7 linked regions of the Homo sapiens genome follow. The protein of the gene in region 7 purifies or fractionates together with the protein of the main gene of each other region. This does not show direct contact. Each region holds a gene or a part of one and is shown on either strand. Other genes may lie near its edges.

The links.
Region 1: the proteins of SLC11A1 (region 7) and ZNF146 purify together in Homo sapiens (affinity purification with mass spectrometry; one large-scale study listed by BioGRID and IntAct). This does not show direct contact.
Region 2: the proteins of SLC11A1 (region 7) and TSFM purify together in Homo sapiens (affinity purification with mass spectrometry; one large-scale study listed by BioGRID and IntAct). This does not show direct contact.
Region 3: the proteins of SLC11A1 (region 7) and ABCA3 purify together in Homo sapiens (affinity purification with mass spectrometry; one large-scale study listed by BioGRID and IntAct). This does not show direct contact.
Region 4: the proteins of SLC11A1 (region 7) and ZNF787 purify together in Homo sapiens (affinity purification with mass spectrometry; one large-scale study listed by BioGRID and IntAct). This does not show direct contact.
Region 5: the proteins of SLC11A1 (region 7) and AKAP12 purify together in Homo sapiens (affinity purification with mass spectrometry; one large-scale study listed by BioGRID and IntAct). This does not show direct contact.
Region 6: the proteins of SLC11A1 (region 7) and TRAFD1 purify together in Homo sapiens (affinity purification with mass spectrometry; one large-scale study listed by BioGRID and IntAct). This does not show direct contact.

The regions. Positions count from the first base shown.
Region 1 is NC_000019.10:36,235,606-36,239,105, forward strand, and holds the end of ZNF146 (zinc finger protein OZF), read left to right. Parts: exon of another isoform or gene 1-53; 5' UTR 54-835; coding exon 836-1,714; 3' UTR 1,715-3,163; downstream 3,164-3,500.
Region 2 is NC_000012.12:57,795,437-57,798,087, forward strand, and holds the end of TSFM (elongation factor Ts, mitochondrial isoform 2 precursor), read left to right. Parts: intron 1-740; coding exon 741-1,147; 3' UTR 1,148-2,151; downstream 2,152-2,651. Other genes in the region: AVIL (advillin), read right to left, coding at 2,446-2,559. UniProt on the Homo sapiens protein: Associates with the EF-Tu.GDP complex and induces the exchange of GDP to GTP. It remains bound to the aminoacyl-tRNA.EF-Tu.GTP complex up to the GTP hydrolysis stage on the ribosome.
Region 3 is NC_000016.10:2,275,381-2,278,554, forward strand, and holds the end of ABCA3 (phospholipid-transporting ATPase ABCA3), read right to left. Parts: intron 3,079-3,174; coding exon 2,908-3,078; intron 2,690-2,907; coding exon 2,499-2,689; intron 2,291-2,498; coding exon 2,217-2,290; intron 1,426-2,216; coding exon 1,294-1,425; 3' UTR 501-1,293; downstream 1-500. UniProt on the Homo sapiens protein: Catalyzes the ATP-dependent transport of phospholipids such as phosphatidylcholine and phosphoglycerol from the cytoplasm into the lumen side of lamellar bodies, in turn participates in the lamellar bodies biogenesis and homeostasis of pulmonary surfactant.
Region 4 is NC_000019.10:56,100,796-56,104,295, reverse strand, and holds part of ZNF787 (zinc finger protein 787), read left to right. Parts: intron 1-1,068; 5' UTR 1,069-1,078; coding exon 1,079-1,157; coding exon of another isoform or gene 1,158-1,459; exon of another isoform or gene 1,460-2,646; intron 2,647-3,500. UniProt on the Homo sapiens protein: May be involved in transcriptional regulation.
Region 5 is NC_000006.12:151,302,467-151,305,966, forward strand, and holds part of AKAP12 (A-kinase anchor protein 12), read left to right. Parts: intron 1-3,280; coding exon 3,281-3,437; intron 3,438-3,500. UniProt on the Homo sapiens protein: Anchoring protein that mediates the subcellular compartmentation of protein kinase A (PKA) and protein kinase C (PKC).
Region 6 is NC_000012.12:112,128,560-112,132,059, forward strand, and holds part of TRAFD1 (TRAF-type zinc finger domain-containing protein 1), read left to right. Parts: intron 1-1,951; 5' UTR 1,952-1,963; coding exon 1,964-2,010; intron 2,011-3,500. UniProt on the Homo sapiens protein: Negative feedback regulator that controls excessive innate immune responses. Regulates both Toll-like receptor 4 (TLR4) and DDX58/RIG1-like helicases (RLH) pathways.
Region 7 is NC_000002.12:218,388,773-218,392,272, forward strand, and holds part of SLC11A1 (natural resistance-associated macrophage protein 1), read left to right. Parts: exon of another isoform or gene 1-220; intron 221-1,097; coding exon 1,098-1,256; intron 1,257-2,425; coding exon 2,426-2,515; intron 2,516-2,603; coding exon 2,604-2,723; intron 2,724-3,342; coding exon of another isoform or gene 3,343-3,459; exon of another isoform or gene 3,460-3,472; intron 3,473-3,500. UniProt on the Homo sapiens protein: Macrophage-specific antiporter that fluxes metal ions in either direction against a proton gradient.

The sequences.
Region 1 (3,500 bases), on a different chromosome or scaffold from region 7:
GCACTTTATGAATTTAACTCCTTTGTGCTATGGTTCTTTGTACTCCATTTTAGAAGAAGCCTGAGAAGATGATGCACAGATAGAGAGGCACCAGGACTTGAGAGGCACCAGGACTTGGGAGGCATGTTGATCCATCTCCAGGAAAGACTGAGAAAAAGAGCGTTGAATATAAGAAAAAATACTTCCTCTGTTCTCAGATCGTATTTGTTTTAAGGCCACACCTTTTTGAAGTTTTCAGTTTGAAACACAACCTGGACTGAAATCATGAGGGAGGTTGTGTAGGAAAGAATCATCAAGGGACTTAGTTGGGAGCTTCTCTACCACAGCTTACTCCTTATGGTATTAACCCCCTTTAAGTGTAAATGTCTTTGGTTTAAAACGTTTGTACCTCATCTGTTACCAGAGTGTTCATACTGGAGAGAAACCCTATGAATTTACTGAATGTGGGGGAACTGTTACTCATATGTTGCATTTCGTCGAACGTGCAAGTCATGCTGAAGAGAAACCCTGTGCTTCTAAGGAGTATTGACAAGCCCTTAGCTAGATGACAATCTCATTGAGAAGCAGAAAATTCATGCTGGAGAGAAACTAGTGAAGGTAGCAATACTTCATTGAATATTAGAAAATTTTTCTAGAGAGAAAGCATTGAATATACTGAGTATGATAACATTTCCTCTCAAACCTTATCCCTTACTCTGCATTTGGGAGATCATACACAGAGAAGCCTTATAAATGTAAGAGATGTGGAAATATCTTCAGCCAAAAGTAAATCCTCACTCATCAAGAAATTTTTACTGGAGAGAAACCTTGTGAATGTGGGAAAGCTTCCATTCAGATGTCACACCTCAGCCAGCAGAGAATTTACAGTGGGGAAAACCCCTTTGCCTGTAAGGTATGTGGAAAAGTCTTCAGCCACAAATCAAACCTCACTGAGCATGAGCATTTTCACACGAGAGAGAAACCTTTTGAATGTAACGAGTGTGGAAAAGCCTTTAGCCAAAAGCAGTATGTCATTAAACATCAGAACACCCATACTGGCGAGAAGCTTTTCGAATGTAATGAATGTGGAAAATCATTTAGCCAGAAGGAAAACCTCCTTACGCACCAGAAAATTCACACTGGAGAAAAACCTTTTGAGTGTAAAGATTGCGGGAAAGCTTTCATTCAGAAGTCAAACCTCATCAGACACCAGAGAACTCACACAGGAGAGAAGCCCTTTGTATGTAAGGAGTGTGGAAAAACCTTCAGTGGCAAATCCAACCTTACTGAGCATGAGAAAATCCATATTGGAGAGAAGCCTTTTAAATGTAGTGAATGTGGAACAGCCTTTGGCCAGAAGAAGTACCTCATAAAACATCAGAACATTCACACTGGAGAGAAACCCTATGAATGTAACGAATGTGGAAAAGCCTTCTCTCAGCGAACATCACTTATTGTACATGTGAGGATTCATTCAGGTGATAAACCTTACGAATGCAATGTTTGTGGAAAAGCCTTCTCTCAGAGCTCATCTCTCACTGTGCATGTGAGAAGCCATACAGGGGAGAAGCCCTATGGTTGTAATGAATGTGGGAAAGCTTTCTCTCAGTTCTCAACCCTTGCTCTGCATTTGAGAATACACACAGGTAAGAAGCCTTATCAGTGCAGTGAATGTGGGAAAGCTTTCAGCCAGAAGTCACACCACATTAGACACCAGAAAATTCATACTCACTAAAAACCCCATGAAAGCCTTGAAAGTGGGAAAGCTTTCATTAGAAATTTGCACCTCATCATGCCCCAGAAATAATCCTTCTGAAGCAAAGCACCACGAATGAGGTTAACTTTAACAAGTACTAAAAACTTAAGGGACACCAGAAAATTTGTACTGAAGAGAAAGACATGCATATGATTAAAACCCTGTGTCCAACAGAGAAACCTGCAGCAGAGATAATGGTGAAAGTTTAGGCACATTTTCACTAAAAGTGGGAACAGAAAATGGAGGCCTGTTTTTTATTGCTACCACCATAGATCTGGAGATCTTCGCCAGTAACAAGAAAAATTAAGTTGTAAATATTGGAAAGGAACAGACAAAAATAGATGACATGGTCATCTACAACTAATATTAAGACTCCTGTGGTATTGATTGAGCAGAGCAGAAGAGATTTCAAAAAAAGACCTATGCATTTATTAGAATTTGGAATATGATACAAGTGGCATCAGGAAATGAGGAAATAATGGAACTATTTTTTTTAAGTGGAGGTAGTTTGTTCTCCAAGGGGGAAAAATAGACCATGAACTATACACAAAAGTGAATCCAGAGATTAAAAACAGAAATATGGAAAAGCTATGTACTAAAATGCATATGACCTTGGGAATAGGGAAACATTCCTTGGAACAATTTGAGAAATACTTAGCGGTTCTACTTATGAGTATGAATGCTCAGGAAATACGCACTAGGATATTTACTGTGGCTTGATTTGTAGTAGCCAAAAATTAGAAACAACTGAGAAAGCCCATCACGAACAATATGGGAAATTCTTATGTAATACTATATATCTGTAAAATGCAACAAATGAAATCCACATGTATTAACAGAAAGATCCCAGAATTGTTGAGGGGGGATCAAGTTGCAGAATGATACAGATAGTACAATGACTTTTTTGTAAATTTGAATTAAAAGTTTCCTCATAAAACTCAGTACTATCTATTGGTAATGGATGCATATATGTATGTACATGTTTTTGAAACGGATTGGAAGGATACAGACCAAACTCTTGATAGTGGTCACCTGTGAAGAGTGGAGAAGGGAAAATAATGAGTGTGGGAGGTGGGATGGGTATTGGTTAAAGGGGACTTCAGCTTTTTATATAAACATCCACTTCTCTTTCAAAAGACTTCAAGTAAATATAAGAAGATACTGATTGATTCTGGATTGTGGTATAGGGATATCTTGTCTTATTTTTTGTACTTTTCTGTATTTTTAAAATTTCTCAAAATAGGAATGGGAGTGAGGATGGGAATGCTGTATCTGTGGAAGTCATGTTATACTGGATTCATTTCCAATTAAATACTAAACATTTTATAGAAAATATTTCTAAAATTTTATCACGGATGAATGGATGGACTTGCTCTCTATGTAATATGAAATTAATCTATTTTATTAAAATTTAAAAGGACAGCACAATCCAAATCTGTTTTAATTATTTTAACATGGCATACACACTATATCGGGGTCCCCAGCTCCCCCCAGCTGCATGGCAGGAGGTGAGTGGCGGGTGAGCGAGCATTGCCACCTGAGCTCCACCTCCTGCCAGATCAGCGGTGGCATTAGTTCTCATAGGAGCGCGAACCCTATTGGGAACTGTGCATGTGAGGAATCCAGGTTGTGCGCTTCTTATGAGAATGTAACGCCTGATGATCTGAGGTGGAACAGTTTCATCCTGAAAACATCCCATCCCCATTCTTCTACCCCCACAAACCGTCCGTGGAAAAATTGTCTTCCATGAAACAGGTCCCTGGTA
Region 2 (2,651 bases), on a different chromosome or scaffold from region 7:
GAAAGGTAGGTGGTGTCATCTCTATTTTAAAGGTGAGGAAACAAAGGCTTGATAAATTTAGTAAATGAGATTATGTCATTGAGTCACTTGCCCGAGGTCATATAGTCAGTAAATAGGCAGAACTGAGACCTGAGTCACACATACTTGTGTCACCACAACCTATACAACCTATGTTTGTTGTTTTTTTTGTTTTTTTTGTTTTTGGAGAGAGTCTTGTTCCCAGGATGGACTGCAATGGTACGATCTCGGCTCACTGCAACCTCCGCTTCCTGGGTTCAAGTGATTCTCCTGCCTCAGCCTCCTGATTAGTTGGGATTACAGGTGCACACCACCACGCCCAGCTGATTTTTGTATTTTTAGTAGAAACAGGGTTTCATCCATGTTGGCCAGGCTGGTCTTGAATTCCTGACCTCAGGTGATCTACCCGCTTCAGCCTCCCAAAGTGCTGGGATTACAGACGTGAGCCACTACACCCGGCCTGTTTTTAAGTACCAGAGTGCCTGGCACATAGTTGGTGCTTCATAAAGGTATTCTTCACTTCCCCCACTCCCGCTCTCCTGCCCCATACCCCTTTTCCTCTTTCTACAAAAACTGAAAATGGTATCTCTTCATCTTACTGCATATCCTATGTAAATGCAAAGGGACTGTCTTCCAAACTGGGCCTCTTCTGTGCATATTTTGGTACCATCACAGACATCACAATTTGTTGGTGTGTTGGTTTTTTGTTTTTGCTTTAATAGGAAAACTGGGAGAAAACATGATTCTTAAACGAGCTGCATGGGTGAAGGTGCCATCTGGGTTCTACGTTGGCTCTTATGTCCACGGAGCAATGCAGAGTCCCTCACTTCACAAGCTGGTGCTGGGGAAGTATGGGGCCCTGGTCATCTGTGAGACGTCTGAACAGAAAACAAACCTTGAAGACGTTGGCCGCCGCCTTGGGCAGCATGTGGTGGGCATGGCCCCCCTCTCTGTTGGCTCCCTGGACGATGAGCCTGGGGGAGAGGCAGAGACTAAGATGCTGTCCCAGCCGTATTTGCTGGATCCCTCCATTACCTTGGGGCAGTATGTGCAGCCTCAGGGGGTGTCGGTAGTAGACTTTGTGCGGTTTGAATGTGGAGAAGGTGAAGAGGCAGCAGAAACTGAATAGGTTCCAGAGACTTTTGGCCCAGGAGGAATATTTACTTTTAGCTCTGGACATCATTACAAAAAGGAATATTTCCCAAACCTCTTCAGACCGAGAATGCATGGGTAAAATTATTAAATAGTTGTATAATAAAAATAATTTTTTCCTTGTTTGCGTAATACTGGATTTAGCTTTTCTGTGCCTTTCAAAAACAACAGGTGGGCCTTATTGACGTGATAGTGTCGTGGAGAACAGGCATCAACAATACTGCTGCTCCCTTCAACATAGATTTATTATGGTATTTCTGAAATTTCTAACTTATATGTTCTGTCTTACACCTTTTATGACATAGAACTCTTTTGTTCTGTTTTTGCTTTGCGACACTGTGAACCGTGCTTCTGCCTCGGAACCTCCCTAGTTATATTACTTGTGCCACATGGATTTCTTTAGGATTATTGATTCAAACCTAGAGTTGTCTGGAAAATGTGGGTTCTCTTCTTTGTGATTGTCTGTAGTATGCTTTGAAGGTGCTCTGCAGTGGTAGACACACTGGTTCTGGCCTCATTTAATGAAATTAATAACACATGCCCCTATTTCTCTTTTGGATGATGTGTGGGTGGGTGGGTACTGAGGTTTCCTGGCCAGCTGTAAGGCAGATTTTGACATTCTTGTGCCAGAAACAGAAATTAGAGTAGTCCAGTTACCCAGAGAGCTCACTTAACATTGCCTCTTTACTTCCCCAGTACTGAAACATTTCTTCAAGTATAACATAAAATTACCGTAACAAGCAGACCCAGAATACTGAAAATAACTCCATTTGTTCATTATAGGTATCTTTATTTGAAAAGTGAAAAATGCTTTGACACATTACAGATCTGGGTATTTGGATTTTGCCTATGGAGTGCATATATGATTTCAATGATTTACAGGCTAAATAGATTTTAGAAATAATCATCTTAAAATTGAAAACAAAGGTAGGTCCTGGTATAATATTAAACATAAAGTTATTAAACATTTTAAGCATTGTTTTTTGGTTCTCTTTCTTTTGATTTCTCCAGATTTATGCAGTTTTAGTGCTTTCTGCTGAGGCTTTAGCTAGAGGGCCACAAAACCCAAAAACTATATGGTTAACATTTTAGGTATATAACAAGCAAGGAATGCAAGGATGAGAAAAAATGGAGAACATGCCGTGATTTGCAGACTCTATTATATCTAAATTAAGTAGCTGAATGTCAGGCAGAAATTGGTGGATAAATTATTTCCTGATATTGGCACTATCTGCTCTTTTCTGTGGCCTTGCAATAGGTATAGGCCTTCTTGCTTTAGAAAAGCCCCTTTTCTTTCTTCATTTGGAGCTGTTTCCAGCCAGGCAGAGCTGCAAATTGCCCTCTTGTGATGCCAAACACAGACACAAAGTCCTGTTCAGAGAGGTAATTCTAAGAGAGAAAACAAAGTTTCTAGTTAGAAGGAAGACATGACATCATTGCCAACAGAAGTTGAGGAAGTTGGAGCAAGAGGGAGTTCTAGG
Region 3 (3,174 bases), on a different chromosome or scaffold from region 7:
ATTAGCTGGGTGTGGTGGCGCGTGCCTGTTGTCCCAGCTACTCGGGAGGCAGAGGCAGGAGAATGGCTTGAACCCGGGAGGCAGAAGTTGCAGTGAGCCAAGATTGCGCCACTGCACTCCAGCCTGGGCAACAAAGCAAGACTCCATAAATAACTAAAAAGGGAGCTGATGAGGAGTTATTTCTGGGAAATGGCAAATGCCCACGGGTGACCCTGATGCCAGCAGCTTCTCTCCCACCAGACCTGTGCTTCCCACACAGCCCCACCTGCTCTTGTCTTTAGACTAAGAGCCTGTCACCGGGCGTTGATCTAGCCGGCTTTTTCCTTTGTGTTATGGGCCTGTTCCTTCACCTCAGTGTATTCTCTGCGTGTGCTCCCTTCTGGGAAAAGCAACGTCCCACGTTTGTGTGATTGAAATGTGAAAGGAGAGCCTCATGTCTAGATTGTGGGCGAGTGATTGAGCCCTGTGACCGCTCGCGCGTGTGACCCACAGACTGTGACTGTGTCCCCTCAGCATTTATTTTCTGGATGGTCACAACGTATTCAATGTGTCCTTGAGACAGCCACCCAGCCCTTAGGGTGGTCCCTGCGTGTCCTGGGGCGGGCGACTTCCTGAGGGTGCAGTGCTGGAAACAGAGACTGCTTCGAGCCTGGCCACCTTCCCTCCTGTGCCGGCTGCTTCTAGGAGATGCTGTGGGACGGTGCCCGGCTTCGCGGTGACTACCATGCCCTAAGGAGCAGAGCCTCCAGGATGCCCCCGGGCTGCGCTGGACGCTAAGACCCCAGCACCTAATCACAGTCAGCAGCTTCCCTCCACTGACAGTGATCTGCATGGTCCATTCCTGGCGGCCTGGGGGCCTCGCTACAGTTCAACCTGGCTGGCTTCCCGCTTCCTCCCCAGGGGAGATTAGTGTCGTGTGTAAACTTGGACAAGTCACTGGGTCCTCTCTCCAGGGAGTGCCTGGAGAAATTCAACCCCCAGCTCAGCTGCAGCCCTTCCTGGGTCAGCTCTCCACCCAGAGACCCCGGAGCTTGCCCGCAGACTGCCCGGCCTGCCCCAGCTCTGGGAAAGTGAACTCCAGAGTATGCAGACATGGAGATGCGCATGCTGATCCTGGGCATGAGGGCTGGGCTGCACTCGTCCATTCTGTGCATACTGCCTTGAATTTTTCATATCCATCATAGAAAAAAGTGATTAAAAATAAAGGATGAGATAAACTTGGAGAGAGAGGATGTAAGATGGGCCCTGCTTGCCCGTCCTGTCCCTGCCTGATGGCGAGACAGCCGCCACCCCTCATCGCCCCTCCTCTGCGGTGGGCGGCTGCAGGTGGGCGAAGCTCAGGAAGACCTGTTCCAGCGAGATCTGGCTCACGGAGTAGTCGTCCACGCCGTACTTTTCCTTGGCTTTCTCCAGAATACCGAAAACCTTTGGGGAGCAGAAAAGTCACTGGTAGGAGAGAACAGGGCCCAGGCTCCTCTGCGGGACCTGGGAGTCCTCTGGCAATAGGGGCTGATGAGGCCCCCACAATCCTACCCCTGCCCAGCGCCACCCCAGAGCCCCAGAGAGGTCAGCCCTGCGACGGCACCGTGCTCCCAGGTAGAGGACGCTGGCTAAGCAGGAGCCAGCGGGGATGGGGCCCAGCCTCCTCCCTGTGCTGTTCCCAGCTCAGATTACAACCTTGAGCCAGTGATGTTCCCTTTCTGAGCCAGTTCTTTTTTTCCCCCATATTTTTTTAGAGAGAGTCTTGCTCTGTAGCCCAGGCTGGAGTGCAGTGGCACAATCATAGCTCACTGCAGTCTCGAACTCCCAGGCTCAAGCGATCCTCCCACCTTAGCCTCCCGAGTGGCTGGGACTACAGGTATGCATGATACCTGGCTAATTTTTAAATTTTTTGTAGAGACGGGGTCTATGTTGCCCAGGCTGGTCTAGAACTCCCAGGCTTAAGCAATCCTCCCTCCTCGGCCTCCCAAAGTGCTGGGATTATGGTGTGAGCCACCATCCCTGACCCCTTTCCTGTTTTACACTGAATTCCTTTTACCACTGATAATTTTGGATATAAAACCCCCAAACCAGCACGTATCAGGCTGAGTGTTAGGGGAGAAATGGAAAGTGACTCCTCTGTGGAAAGAGCCTGCAGTCACCACAGAGGGAGAGACCCCTGGAGGGACCTCCCCCTGCCCCATGAGTGCCCAGTGGGGCCCCAGGGACTGCCTCACCTTCGCCCAGCTGAGGTCACGGCCCGGCAGGTGGTAATGGACCATGCCTTGGTGCTCATCTTCCAGGACGCTGCCTGCACAAAGGAGAGACGGTGTTGCTGTGAGCGCCGGGCTGGAGGATCGGGGAGGGTGCCTGGGTGCTCAGCACTGGAGTCCTCGTCCCAGGGATTGGGGAGATGGGACTTGGCGGGGCGAGGCACAGACGCTCCGCACAGCAGATGGGAGAGGCCTAGGTAGGGGCCCAGGGCCCACCCAGTGGGGGCTGCCGGGGCCGGCACACACCTGGAAAGGTCAGGTCCACGAAGGCCTTGAACTCCTCCAGCGCCTCCTGTTGCCCTTCACTCTGCACCTTGGCCCGCAGGGAGTAGCCGCTGCCGAACTTGCTCTTGAGGTGCTGGGGGCTGCCCAGGCACTTGAACTGCCCCTGCACCATGATGGCCAGCCGGGTGCACAGGGCCTCACACTCCTCCATGCTGTGGAGAGGGCGGGACCTCAGATAGGGCTTGGGGTGCCAAAGGCTTGTGCAGACAGGAAGGCATTGGCTCTCCGATCAGGCTGTTCCTGATACCCATGCTCAGTGTGGCTCACGGGCAGACTCTGCACCAGATGCTGATGGGTCTCCTGGCCACCTGGCTCCTCCATGGCCCACCCGGTGCTGAAACTTCCAGTAACCCACAGACCCAGGCTCTACCTGTGGGAGGTGATGATGATGGCCTTGCCAGACTCTCGGGCTCGTGCCACGGTGTCCCAAAGCAGGCGCCGGGCCACGGGGTCCATGCCAGTGGACGGCTCGTCCAGGAAGATGACAGCAGGCTCTCCGATCAGGGCGATGCCGGTGCTCAGCTTCCGCTTGTTACCACCACTAGAGGCAGGAGGGTGCCAGGTGGGGGAATAAGGCTGAGAGTTAGCATTGGCTCCCATGTCCCAGTGGAGGCCCGTGTCCCAGCAGCGGCCCACA
Region 4 (3,500 bases), on a different chromosome or scaffold from region 7:
CGGGTCGGCGGCGTGCGTAGGGACCCTCCCGGTGCGTGGCACGGGTCGGCGGTGTCGTGCGTAGGGACCCTCCCGGTGCGTGGCACGGGTCGGCGGTGTCGTGCGTAGGGACCCTCCCGGTGCGTGGCACGGGTCGGCGGCGTGCGTAGGGACCCTCCCGGTGCGTGGCACGGGTCGGCGGTGTCGTGCGTAGGGACCCTCCCGGTGCGTGGCACGGGTCGGCGGTGTCGTGCGTAGGGACCCTCCCGGTGCGTGGCACGGGTCGGCGGTGTCGTGCGTAGGGACCCTCCCGGTGCGTGGCACGGGTCGGCGGTGTCGTGCGTAGGGACCCTCCCGGTGCGTGGCACGGGTCGGCGGCGTGCGTAGGGACCCTCCCGGTGCGTGGCACGGGTCGGCGGCGTGCGTAGGGACCCTCCCGGTGCGTGGCACGGGTCGGCGGTGTCGTGCGTAGAGACCCTCCCGGTGCGTGGCACGGGTCGGTGGTGTCGTGCGTAGAGACCCTCCTGGTGCGTGGCACGGGTCGGTGGTGTCGTGCGCAGAGACCCTCACGGTGTGTGGCACGGGTTGGGAGTGTCGTGTGCAGAGACCCTTAGGCGCCTGTTGCCCTGTTTCTGCTGTGATGGGTAAGTATCTGCCAGGGGTGTGGGAACTCCAGTCCCTGTTTGGCATGAGCACCACATGTACACTGTCTTGTGTACGCTTGACAGTAACATGTTCTCCATCTTGCCAGTGAGGAAGCTGAGGCGCGAGGAGGCGCGAGGTGGGGTTGCTTGCCCCAGGTCCAGCTGGGGAGTGGTGGGGCTGGGATGGGAACTGGCGGTGGTTGTAGCCCTTGAGGGTCCTTGAGTCCTTCCTGCGGCTGTGTGAGGCCTTGGCTGGCCCCTGCAGTGGGGAGCGGCCAGGCTAGCTCCAGGCCAGTTCTCGGTGTCCTGGGGTAGGTGCTGTGTGCCTTGTCTGCCGGGCGCTGTGCCTGTCACGCCGGGGTCTGCAGGCTGCCTCCCTGCAGGGCCCTCGGTGCAGCCTGGCACCCCATAAACTCTGTCCTTCTGTCTCATCCCCTTCTAACAGGGACCCAGACATGGAGCTGCGGGAAGAAGCCTGGTCTCCGGGGCCGCTGGATTCTGAGGACCAGCAGATGGCCAGTCACGAGAACCCAGGTGAGCAGCCAGAGGCCTTCCCAGCCGACCCCGCTGCCTCCCACCTGACCCTGGCTTCCTTTGCCTCTGGGTGGGAGGAAACCCCCCTTCCCTGTTTTCCCCTCTTGGGGCCCTGGGACCACCCGACCCTGGCCTCCCCTCCCGCCCTGGGCCTTGCACTCCTGGCTGTAGAGGGAGGGCTAGTGTTGTGGCTCCAAGTTTCCTTTCTGCTGGATGATCTTGGGGACCCCTGGGGGCCACCTTCTCTGCCTGACTTCCTCTGTCCTTGCCCCTCCAGCCTGGGCAGCACCCCCGTCTGTTGAGGGTGCCCCCTTCCTCTCCCCACAGCCCCGCCTCCACATCCTGGACCCTCTGCTATGATTCCAGGCGGGCCTGTGGCCCTCCCTGGCAGGAAACTCCTTACACCAGGGGTGGCCCAGGAGCGCAGGGAACCCGCAGGCTGATGCCGACTTTTCAGGGAAAGCTCAGGAGTGCAGGGAACCCGCAGGCTGACGCAGACTTTTCAGGGAAAGTTGTCAGTTTGGGTTTTTATGTGAAATCCTTCACTTTTTGGACATTGGCAATGTGTTTTGTTTGTTTAATAAAGCATTATTGGGGTTGAGCAAAACTCATTTGTGGGCTACGTGGGGCCCAGGTTTGCTTGCGAAGGCCCCATGGTGACCTCACTGTGGCCCCTGACACCTCATGGCCTCCCTCCCCTCCACGGAGGCCGCCTCCCTGCCTCAGACCTGAGGAATAAGGTGCGGCAGCTTCTCTCCTTGCTGTGTCTGCATGTCAGGCCCCAGGTCCCAGGCCCACGCTGGCCCCACGCTGGCCGGGGCTCAGCAGACCTTTTCTGCAGAGAGCCAGAGAGGAAATACTGTTCATCTTGCAGGCTGCGGGCCTCACAGATACCACGCAGCCACAGTCCACACGGAAATGCGTGGGCACACTTGATGCAGAAAGGCCGGCAGAGCTTGCCAGCTCAGGCTGGCATAGCTGAGTCGTCCCATACAAAGACCGGGGTGAAGTTTGGGATCGATTTTGTAAAGCACCTCAGCCCCTTTTTGAGTGATTTCTGAGATCTGTGGATGGAGCATGAACAGAAGCTCCCTGTGGGCGGGGCTGTGGCAGCCTTGGTCCCGGGGTAGAAACTATGATGGGGGTTTTGAGTGCGTTGCCAGGACCGCATGCCCAGGGGGCCCACACCCCGGCCCCAGGCTGCCCCGCGTCTCAGTGGGTGGTTGCCATCCCGCACCGCCACAGCCCTCGAGGGCTGCCCCTGCCTTCTCCCTCGCATACATCCTTGGCCTTCGAACCTTTTCGAAAATTAATTCTGTGGAAATCTCAAGTGTGTGGACGCAGTGTGATGAATCCCTCTTCCTGCGCCAGCGATTCGCGGCACTGCTGGTCCCTTTCTGCCCACTGTGGTTCTCTTTCCACAGCGTTTTAGAGAAAATATCCATCACATCATTTTGTCTGTAAATTCTCCAACATGTAAGGACTCCTTGAAAAAAAGAAAAAGCCCTACAGGAAGCTGATCTCATCTAACAAAATGTCATTTTTCAGGAACTTCATCTAATCTAGCACCCGGTCCTTTTTAAAATACTTCGTTGTCTCCAAAATGCTTGTCTTTGAGTAAGTTCATCTTTAATTTTACAAGTCACTCATACACTCACTCTCTTTGTAGAAGGTAGGTGTCAGGTCCCCTTGTCCAGCCCGCTGCCCTGCCCAGCCCTGGCCCTGCGTCTGTGGGAGTCCTGTCCCCCACCAGGCAGCTGGCTCCGGGGAGGGCCTGCGCTTGGCGCCGCCTCTGGAGCATCACCCCTGCGTGACGCCCTTGCTCGGCTGTCAAAGATGGGCTGCGCACGCTCCCAAGCTGCTCTGGTGTCCGGCGTTCGCGTAACTCCCGTGTGGGGTCCCGCCTACATGCGTCCCCCCTATGTGACAGTGACAGACATCGTAGGTGGGGGTGGAGTGGCGGGGGTTGGCCTGGCCATGGCGTGTGGAGTCCCGCCTACATGCGTCCCTCCTATGTGACAGTGACAGACATCGTAGGCGGGGGTTGGCCTGGCCATAGCATGTGGGGTCCCACTTACGTGCGTCCCTCCTATGTGACAGTGACAGACTTCGTAGGTGGGGGTGGAGTGGCGGGGGTTGGCCTGGCCATGGCGTGTGGAGTCCCGCCTACGTGCGTCCCTCCTATGTGACAGTGACAGACATCGTTCGTGGGGGTGGAGTGGTGGGGGTTGGCCTGGCCATGGCGTATGGAGTCCCGCCTACATGCGTCCCTCCTATGTGACAGTGACAGACATCGTAGGTGGGGGTGGAGTGGCGGGGGTTGGCCTGGCCATAGCATGTGGG
Region 5 (3,500 bases), on a different chromosome or scaffold from region 7:
TTCTAAAAGAGTAGACGGAAATTTGTGCCTGTGTGCTATAGTCTTCATGTTTAAAGAGACTCAGTTTGGCTCCAACTAAAGATACCTTGGATTGGGCAATTCACAGAGGATTATAAGAATTTTTTCAATAATTTTAGGTACTTGGTAGAACCCTAAACTCTATAGAACTTCAGAGTTCTGGTTCCTAAATAAGAGGCACAATTGACCGAAGTTTATTGCATTGAAATTGAGGTATTAAGATGGCTTTTTTATGTTCCCTGTTTAGTTTGCCATATCATGAAACTGTGTATGTCAACAGTTTCTAGGTTTAAGATTCACTGGGTTACCATGTAGCCCACGATAATATGTGATTCCTGCTTTCCTCCCCCAACTTTTCTTCCTGTTACTAATCAAATCTAAGTCCTGTGTACATACTCAATGATATTTAGTTAGAATACTCTGACATTTGGCTGGGCGCAGTGGCTCATGCCTGTAATCCCAGCACTTTGGGAGGCTGAGGCGGGCGGATCAGCTGAGATCAGGAGTTGGAGACCAGCCTGGCCAACACGAAATCCCGTCTCTACTAAAAATACAAAAATTAGCTGGGCGCAGTGGCAGGCACCTGTAATCCCAGCTACTCGGGAGGCTGAGGCAGAAGAATCACTTGAACCCAAAAGGCGGATGTTGCAGTGAGCCAAGATCATGCCATTGGACTACCTGGGGGACAAGAGCGAAAATCCATCTCAAAAATAAAAATAAAAAAAAGAAATACTCTGACATTTTTGCAGATGGGCTTTGTGGAGACACACTGCCCCCTTCTCCATTCCCTACCCCCTGCTTTTGTCTTTAGGTTTCATTTAAAATGCCCATCTTTCATATTTTGGTAAGAGAAGACTTTAAGTGGAAATGTAATCTGAGTATTCTGTTTAATAAATGGACTCAGCATGGGCATTTTGAAGCCAACAATCCCATCTGTAGTGTAAGTATTAAACTACAGTGGTATTATTTCAGGAGGAAGCTCATGCAGTTGAAGGACAGCCTTGCTGGGAGCCGAGAACAGCCAGGTGAAATCAATTTAGCACAACTTAAGGCTTCTGGATTGCGTGTCTTGAACCCACTGTCCCTTCAGCGTTCAGGGTCTAAGTCAGTGGTGAGTCCAGAGTCATTCATTGGCCTGGAAGCAGGATGGAATGATGTCAGATGGAGTGCAGAGTTGAGATTGCTTTGTAGCATGCAGGTCTGTACCAGACCTTTTCCAGACCGGTTCCAGACCTGGAATACCCTTTAAGTCATTTTATAATTGTGTGTAGTAACAGGACCTTCAAAGCATGGCACGTATCTTTGTAATTGTGTGTAGTAACAGGACCTTCAAAACATGGCACCTATCTTTATAATTGTGTGTAGTAACAGGACCTTCAAAACATGGCACCTATCTTTATGTTGAGAGCCTCAAACAGAAAAACGCTGGAAATAGTTGGTGGCAAGAGTTGGCTTCGGGCCATGATGCCCCCATTCCTGAGCTGTGTGACCTGGGGCAAGACAACCCCACCCCACCAGAATTGCTTTGAGTCCCGGTGTCATTATTATAAAATGGAAATAATAGCAGCTGCCTATGTTGGTTTTAAGATAAATGAGATATCTGTATATATAACATTGCTGTATATTACATTGTTGAAACATTTAGGTTCCTAATGGTTATTGTTTCTATTGGCTTAAAATTTTTTTACCTATATTCTCAGGATTAAAAATACGACCAAGAGCAAGCCGGGCACAGTGGCTCACACCTGTAATCCTAGCACTTTGGGAGGCAGAGGTGGGTGGATCACTTGAGGTCAGGAGTCTGAGACCAGCCTGGCCAACATGGCAAACCACGTCTCTACTAAAAATACAAAAATTAGCCAGGCATGGTGGTGCACGCCTGTAATCCCTGCTATGTGGGAGGCTGAGGCAGGAAGATCACTTGAACCTGGGAACTGGAGGTTGCAGTGAACCGAGATCACGCCACTGCACTTCAGCCTGGGTGAAACAGTGACACTCCATCTCAAAAAAAAAAAAAAAAAAAAAAAAAAAAAAAGGATTATATGACCAAGGGCATGCCTACATGCCTGCTGATTTTGTGGGTTTTTTCATTTTTGTTTTTTGTTTTTCTCGCTCCGTCACCCAGGCTGGAGTGCTGTGGCTCAATCTCTGCTCGCTGTAACCTCCACCTCCCACATCCACCTCCAGGTTCAAGTGATTCTCCTTCTGCAGCCTCCCAGGTAGCTGGGACTACAGGCATGCACCACCATGCCTGGCTAATTTTTTTGTATTATTAGTAGAGACGGGGTTTCACTATGTTGGCCAGGCTGGTCTTGAACTCCTCGTGATCTGCCCGCCTCGGCCTCCCAAAGTGCTGGGATTACAAACATGAGCCACCACGCCCGGCCATGCCTGCTGATTTTGAAACTGATGCCATCAGTTGCACAGGGCATCCTATGGGGAGGATTGCAAATGACCATTGTAGTAATATTTTTAAGGAAAAAACAATGACCCAAATGGACATGTTATATGTGTCTTGTTTGCTTGCTGGGCTCTGGGAGCACTGGCCTTCGCGCCAAGCGGCCTCCCTTCTCTGCACCCCGTTTATCCTTTTCTTACACAGCCCTTGCCTGTGGAAATGAGATCTCAGCTTTACCATTGCTTCCTCAGAGAAGTCCTGGACACCCCCAGCCTCAGTCAGGGCTGTTTTTTTTTTTTTTTTTAAAACCTACTTGATTCATTCTCAAGGGCTCTGTTTATTGTTATTTGTTCTATGTATGCCTCCTTCATGACAGTTTCCACAGCTGCAGTTTAGTAATTATTTGTTTAAAAGTCTGCCTTCTGACTTGTTCAGTCAATTATGCTTAACCTGCATCTAATCACAAGGAAACATTATTTATTATTTTAAAGTAAAAAAGAGGTTTTTAAGTCTGCCTTCCATAGTAATTTGTAAGCTCAAAGCTCTGGGAAACACATCTGATTTTTTCATGGTTATATTTGAAATAGGTCTGGAAAGGTGAATGTATGTATCTGGTGTTCCAATGAATGAATTAATGAGTGGATGAATGGCTGATGGGCACACTTACCCAGATACAAGGCCCTATCTGCTTGTAAGGTAGCTGGATCTTTCAGACAAATATAAGACTTAACTCTTCATTGTTTTTGAACTTCCTTTTCTCTGTATTTCTTCTTTCACTGGTTTGTATTCTGGAAGTTAATGCCTTGTTTCTGACTTGGTCATGAGGACTGAAATTAAGTTTCTATGGCTTTGTCTTTTCCATAGCTCCTACAGAAGAATGGTCAGCTGTCCACCATCAATGGCGTAGCTGAGCAAGATGAGCTCAGCCTCCAGGAGGGTGACCTAAATGGCCAGAAAGGAGCCCTGAACGGTCAAGGAGCCCTAAACAGCCAGGAGGAAGAAGAAGTCATTGTCACAGAGGGTAAGCCGCCCCTCCAGGAACTGGAAGGCACACAGCACTTGCAACAAACTTTGGACTCAGCAG
Region 6 (3,500 bases), on a different chromosome or scaffold from region 7:
TATCAACTATGTGATCATGGTTTACATCAATAGTAAAATAAGACTGTTGACATCATGTACCTTCTGATATAAGGCACTGAGATGAGCACAACATGATTTCTATGGTGTTCTTGCCAAAAATATATAACCTGAATTTAATCATGAGAAAATATCAGACAAACCCAAATTGAAGGATATTATATAAAATAACTAGCTGGCTGGGCACGGTGACTCATGCCTGTAATCCCAGCACTTTGGGAGGCTGAGGCTGGCTGGTGGATCATATGAGGTCAGGAGTTTGAGACCAGCCTGGTCAACATGGTGAAACTCCATCTCTACTGAAAATACAAAAATTAGCTGGGCATGGTGGTGCACACCTGTGGTCCCAGCTACTCAGGAGGCTGAGGTCGAGGTTGCAGTGAGCCGAGATCGCAGTGAGCCGAGATCGCACCACTGCACTCCAGCCTAGACAGCAGAGTGAGACTCTGTTTAAAAAAAAAAAAAAAAAAAAAGCCAGTATGCTTAACAAGGTCATGAAAGAGAAGGAAAGACTGAAGAACTCTCCCAAATCAAAGGAGATTAACTACAAGTAATAGCCAAATGCAGTGTGTGATCCTAGATTGAATGCTGAACCAGAAAAAGGGTGGGATGGTGATTTTTTTTTTTTTTTTTTTTTTTTTTGAGACAGGATCTCACTCTGTCACCCAGGCTAGGGTGCAGTGGTACAATCACTGCTCACTGCAGCTTTGACCTCCTGGGCTTAAGTGATCTTCCCATCTCAGCCTTCTGAGTAGTTGGGACCACAGGTGTGTGCCACCACGTCTGGCTAATTTTTAAATTGTTTGTAGAGAAGGGTTTCACCATGTTGCCCAGGCTGATCTTAAACTCCTGGGTTCAAGCGATCCTCTTCAGCTCAGCCTCCCAAAGTTCTGGGAGTACAGGCATGAGCCCCTGTGCCTGACTTGTTGGTGAAATTTGAATGAATTCTATAGATTAGTTACTAGTATTGTATTAGTGTTAATTTCCTCTATTTGATAATTTTACTATTGTTATGATGCTTTTAGGGTAATTGGATGAAGTCTGTAAGGGATGTTATTTTATTTTTATTTATTTATTTATTTTTGAGACGGAGTCTTACTCTGTCGCTAGGGTGGAGTGCAGTGGCACGATCTTGGCTCACTGCAACTTCTGACTCCCTGGTTGAAGCGATTCTCCTGCCTCAGCCTCGCGAGTAGCTGGGATTACAGGCATGCGCCACCACACCCAGCTAATTTTTGTATTTTTAGTAGAGATGGGGGTTTCACCATGTTGGCTAGGATGGTCTCGATCTCCTGACCTTGTGATCTGCCTGCCTCGGCCTCCCTAAGTCCTGGGATTACAGGTGTGAGCCACTGCGCCTGGCCAGGATGTTATTATTATTATTATTTTTGAGACAGGGTCTCACTCTGTCACCCAGGCTGGAGTGCAGTGGCATGATCATGGCTCTCTGCAGCCTTAAACTCCTAGGCTTAAGCATTCCTCTTGCACATTCCTCCTGCCTCGGCCTCTCGAGTAGCTGGGACTACAGGCACACATCACCATGCCTGGGTAATTTTTTTTTTTTGTATTTTTTGTAGACATGACGTTACCCCATGTTGTGGCCAGGTTGGTCTTAAACTCCTGGGCTCAAGTGATCCGCCTGCCTCGGCCTCCCAAAGTACTGAGATTACAGGCATGAGCCACTGTACCCAGCCTAGTAAAAGTATTTTATTTTATTATTTTTATTTTTTAAAACTCCCTTATCCAATAAAATTATTTTAAATTGAAAATTTTAAAATAAGAAAATCCCAAGGGACTGGATATTGAATAAAATGCTTTAACATGCAGGTTTGGGTGACAGTTTCTGTATACTAGTTTTTTATTTGTTTTTTTGCATGTCATCTTTAAAGCAGAAATGAAAGAGAAAGTTCATGTCTTCCTTTGTGGTTTTCAGGAAGAGCTAAAGATGGCTGAATTTCTAGATGACCAGGAAACTCGACTGTGTGACAACTGGTAAGACATTAAATCTAAGAAATGTTAGTGGAATGAGGACAGTCAAGCTTAATCACTATCATTTCCTGATTTAAAAACTGTTAGTGAAGACTGGCACAGTCTTGAGTTAAGCTTTCTATTTTGGTGTTTATAACCCACATGAATTACAAGAAAGAGCATCTCTTTCCTGATGAAATGAAACCGGTTGTAAAGTTAATAATCAGCTGGTTCCTGTTGGGGTTTTCCTAAGAACTTATCTTGGTATCTTGGTGCTATACAAGTGCTGTTACTGTAAGCTGACAAAAAAAGCAAAGCAGAACTGTCTGCTATGTTTATTACTTTATTTTCCTTCACTGGGTACTTCTTTCACAATGTGCTATGTTTACCTTAGCAAACTGTGGTAGAAAGAGATGTGGAATAAGGAAAATAGTTTAACTCATTGGTGGAATATTTGAGCCAAATAACATTTTTGTCATCATCGTTGTCTTTTTCTTTCTTCTCAGCCTAACTTTGGCAGAATTAGAATATAATTAGAGCAACAGCTGGTTACAATATTCTTTACCTGCTTGGAATTAAGATTTCATCTCATTGTAGGTGTCTTGCCATATTGTAGAGTATTTCTGCTATGCCACTATCACTTTCTACCATTTCATAAACTATTTTAGTTTTGTTTGGGTTTTATATGTATAGCTACTGAAACAGAGTAATCAGAAACAAATAATCAAAAGAAAACATGATTTTGTAAGAAAAGAGACACATTGGTTTTTAGCATTAGTTAAGATACACCTATTTTATCAGTCCACTCCAATTAGGAGGAATCTCAAGCCTAGGACAAAATATAAATAACTATGCTAAGAGAGTTAAAGGGTGAGTTAATGGAAAGCTAGTGAAAAACAATGCTATTCAAAGCCAAAGAAATTAAAGAAAAAAGCAGATTAGCATAGAAGGCTGACTAAACCTGTAAAGAATTAATTTCTGGCTGTTTGTGTTTAGTGTTTGGAAAGTTCTTGGGAATTTTTCTGGAAGCTTTGGTTTGCCTTTCAGCTATTTCTATCTAAATGAAATTTCACCTCTAATTTGCTAGCCCTTCCTTGAGACTTTTAGCAGTTTTATCTGGATACGGAATTGTGTGCTCATTTATCTCACTTAAAACATCTTCATTTTCTCCGAAGGTAGGAAGTAAGCATATTAGTATTTGGTCTGGTTGGAATGTTTGGTAGGAATATGTTGGCAGTTAAATTTTAAAAGAAAAAAACCCAGCAGGCAACTGTTTTATATAATTGTTGCAAATATCTTTTTTATTTCAGCATTTCCTAAGAGGTGAATATGTGCAATAGTAAATGCTTTGTGGTCTTACTTGACAGCTGCTTTTGATTCTTGTTGCTTCATATTATGATGGTGTGGTCCTTAATATTTTTTGTTTTAATTCTAAAGTTTTAGGGGCCTTGTGTATGTAGTATGTCAACAAGTTATCCTGAACAGCCTTGTAAAGTAAATGCTAGACATTTAGT
Region 7 (3,500 bases):
GCCTGAGTGACAAAGCAAGACTCCGTCTCAAAAAAAGAAAAAGAACAAGAACTATAGAGCTGGGCGAGGTGGCTCACGCCTGTAATCCCGGCACTTCAGGAGGCAGAGGCAGGTGGATCGCTTGAGCCCAGGAGTTCGAGACCACCCTGGGCAACATGATAAAACCCTGTCTCTACCAACAAAAAATAAAAAATAAAATAAATTAGTTGGGTGTTGTGCACACCTGTAGTCCTAGTTACTCAGGAGGTTGAGGCTTGAGCCCTGGAGGTCGAGGCTGCAGTGAGCTGAGATCCCACCACTGCACTCTCAGTGACACAGTGAGACCCTGTCAAAATAATAATAATAATAATAATAATAATTGCGAAAGGGACTCTGAAGTAAACAAAACAGAGAAATATGATAGAGAATGACTGAAAGTTGGGGAAGTAGATCAGGGAAAAGATATTACAAGCGGAGGGAAAGCAAGTGCAAAGGCCACTGGCAGAAGTGAACAAGGCTTGGGTCCCTAACAGCTTAACAGTGGCTCACACCTGTAATCTCAGCATTTTAAGAGGCCAAGACAGGAGAATGCTTGAGCCCAGGAGTTCAAGGCTAGCCTAGCAAGACCCTGTCTCTGCAGAAAATTTAAAAATTAGCGGGTTGTAGTGGTGTGTGTCTGTGGTCCCAGCTACTTAGGAGGCTGGGGCAGGAGGATCACTTGGGCCCATGAGTTGGAGGCTGCAGTGAGCCATGCATTGCACCACGGCACTCCAGTCTGGGTGACAGAACAAAACCTGTCTCTAAAAAATAAAATAAAGTAAGCTGGACACGTCTGAGGATGGAACAAGGTGAGTGAAGGAGCGTGTCAGGACCTGAGGTAGCCAGGGACCTCAAAGGCCAGCCTTGCTTCACCCACACAGTGGCTTACAGTGGTAAGGCCTCTGTGGCAAGAACAGAGATGTAGGAAACCATCGGCTGACCTGAACCTGCCCCAGACTGCCACGCAGGGGACTTAAGAAGGTACTGGGCTTTGGGGAGAACATAGAAGTGTGAGGGTGGGGGACACTGTGGTGGCTCTGAGGGACTTTGGCACTTCCCTCTCCCTTTGATCTTCGTAGTCTCGAGAGATAGACCGGGCCCGCCGAGCAGACATCAGAGAAGCCAACATGTACTTCCTGATTGAGGCCACCATCGCCCTGTCCGTCTCCTTTATCATCAACCTCTTTGTCATGGCTGTCTTTGGGCAGGCCTTCTACCAGAAAACCAACCAGGCTGCGGTGAGACACACTTTCCCCCGCACCTGAGGCCACACACGTACTCATGTCCTGTAAGCCTTGCCGAGGACCCTAGGCAATGCAGCTGAGCCCTTCTGAGTCTCTGCCCTGATGATCTTCCCTGTTGGCAGATATCATTCATTCAGCAAATAATCATTGAGCATTTGTTATATACCAAGCACATCCTAGACCCTGGGGATACAGCAGTCAATGCTACAAAGACCCAGCTCTCTGCAGCTTAAATAGGGAGGGAGGTGAGCAGACAGGAATGAATACCCAAGGGAAGTACAGAGTGGGAAGAAATAAAGGGGGTGAAGAAGCATAGTTGGGGGTATGGGGGTGGGGTCTGCATTAGCCCAGGTGGTCAGGAAAGGCTTCTTGGAAGAGATGACATTTGTGCTAATACTGGAAAAGGAACTAGCCAGCTCCTCCCTGACTCTCTGGGATCTGGGACCTGTGTCTGTCTCCCCTTCTGAGTGGATCTCAGTCATGAGGCTCTAACAACTGCAGCCAGGGTTGGGGGCTTCCTGAATGCTGAGCCCTGTGGGAGAAGGGGTGGCCAGGCCTCCAAGGACCTGGGCACTGCCACTGCCTTGCTCTGTGACCTTGGGAGGTCACACTCCTCCCTGGGTCTCACTCTGTTCCTTGGCACAAGGAGGGAGATCAACATCAGGACTGCAAACCCTTGTCTTCAAGACCAGGCAGGCGCAGAGTTGTGGGAAGTGGACAGTGTGAAGAGGGCATGGCAGCCAGCTGTCTCTGTGGTGATGCCAGCTCTTACGAACCTAAAAGAAGCTGGAAACTGGGTTCTTATGCCAGGCCTTCTCAATTTTAAATGTTGGCAACAAATCCACATTAAAGAAAAAAAAAACCCGGCCGGGTGCGGTGGCTCACGCCTGTAATCCCAGCACTTTGGGAGGCTGAGGCAGATGGCTCGCTTGAGCCCGGGAGTTCAAGACCAACCTGGGCAACATGACAAGACCCCCATCGCTACAAAACGTAAAAGTAAAACAAAACAAAACCCAACTTATTTTGTTAGCCAAACAAAATATGTCTGGCCAGATTCAGCCTTGGGCCACCAGTTTTGGAACCCTGGTCAGTGCTAGGCAGTCCAGTTTCCCAAGGCTGAGCGTGCTCCTCACATCTTCCTTCTACTGCCCTGGTACCCACAGTTCAACATCTGTGCCAACAGCAGCCTCCACGACTACGCCAAGATCTTCCCCATGAACAACGCCACCGTGGCCGTGGACATTTACCAGGGGGTGAGCGCGGGTGGGTGGGGAGGGCGTGACCCAGAGAGGCTCCCCGCCTCGGGCAGGGCCACCGGTCCTACCACACTCGTCCCTGCAGGGCGTGATCCTGGGCTGCCTGTTCGGCCCCGCGGCCCTCTACATCTGGGCCATAGGTCTCCTGGCGGCTGGGCAGAGCTCCACCATGACGGGCACCTACGCGGGACAGTTCGTGATGGAGGTAGGGCAGGGGGCGGGCCCAGGAGGGCAAGGGGTCCAAGGACAGCAGGCACACTACTGGGGGCTAGAACTCCGAGCCTTGTGGGTCCTCTTTTCTTTTCTTTCTTTTCTTCCTTTTTTTTTGTTTTTGTTTTTGTTGTTGTTGTTGAGACGGAGTCTCGCTCTTGTCGCCCAGGCTGGAGTGCAGTGGCGCGATCTCGGCTCACTGCAACCTCCCCCTCCCAGGTTCAAGCTTCTCCTGCTTCAGCCTCCTCAGTAGCTGGGATTTCAGGCACCTGCCACCAGGCCTGGCTAATTTTTGTACTTTTAGTAGAGACAGGGTTTCGCCATGTTGGCCAGGCTAGTCTTGAACTCTTGACCTCAAGTGATCCGCCTGCCTTGGCCTCCCAAAGTGCTGGAATTACAGGTGTGAACCACCGCACCCGGCCAATTTTTGTATTTTTAGTAGAGACGCAGTTTTGCTGTGTTGGCCAGGCTGGTCTCAAACTCTTGACCTCGTGATCCGCCCGCCTTGGACTCCTGAAGTGCTGGGATTATAGGCGTGAGCCACTGCGTCCGGCCTTTTCTTTTCTTTCTTTCTTTCCTTTTTTTTGAGACGGCGTTTCGCTCTTATTGCCCAGGCTGGAGTGCAATGGCGCGATCTCCGGCTCACCGCAACCTCCACCTCCTGGGTTCAAGCAATTCTCCTGCCTCAGCCTCCTGACCAGCTGGGATTACAGGCCACCACACCCAGCTAATTTTGTATTTTCAGTAAAGACGGGGTTTCTCCATGTTGGTC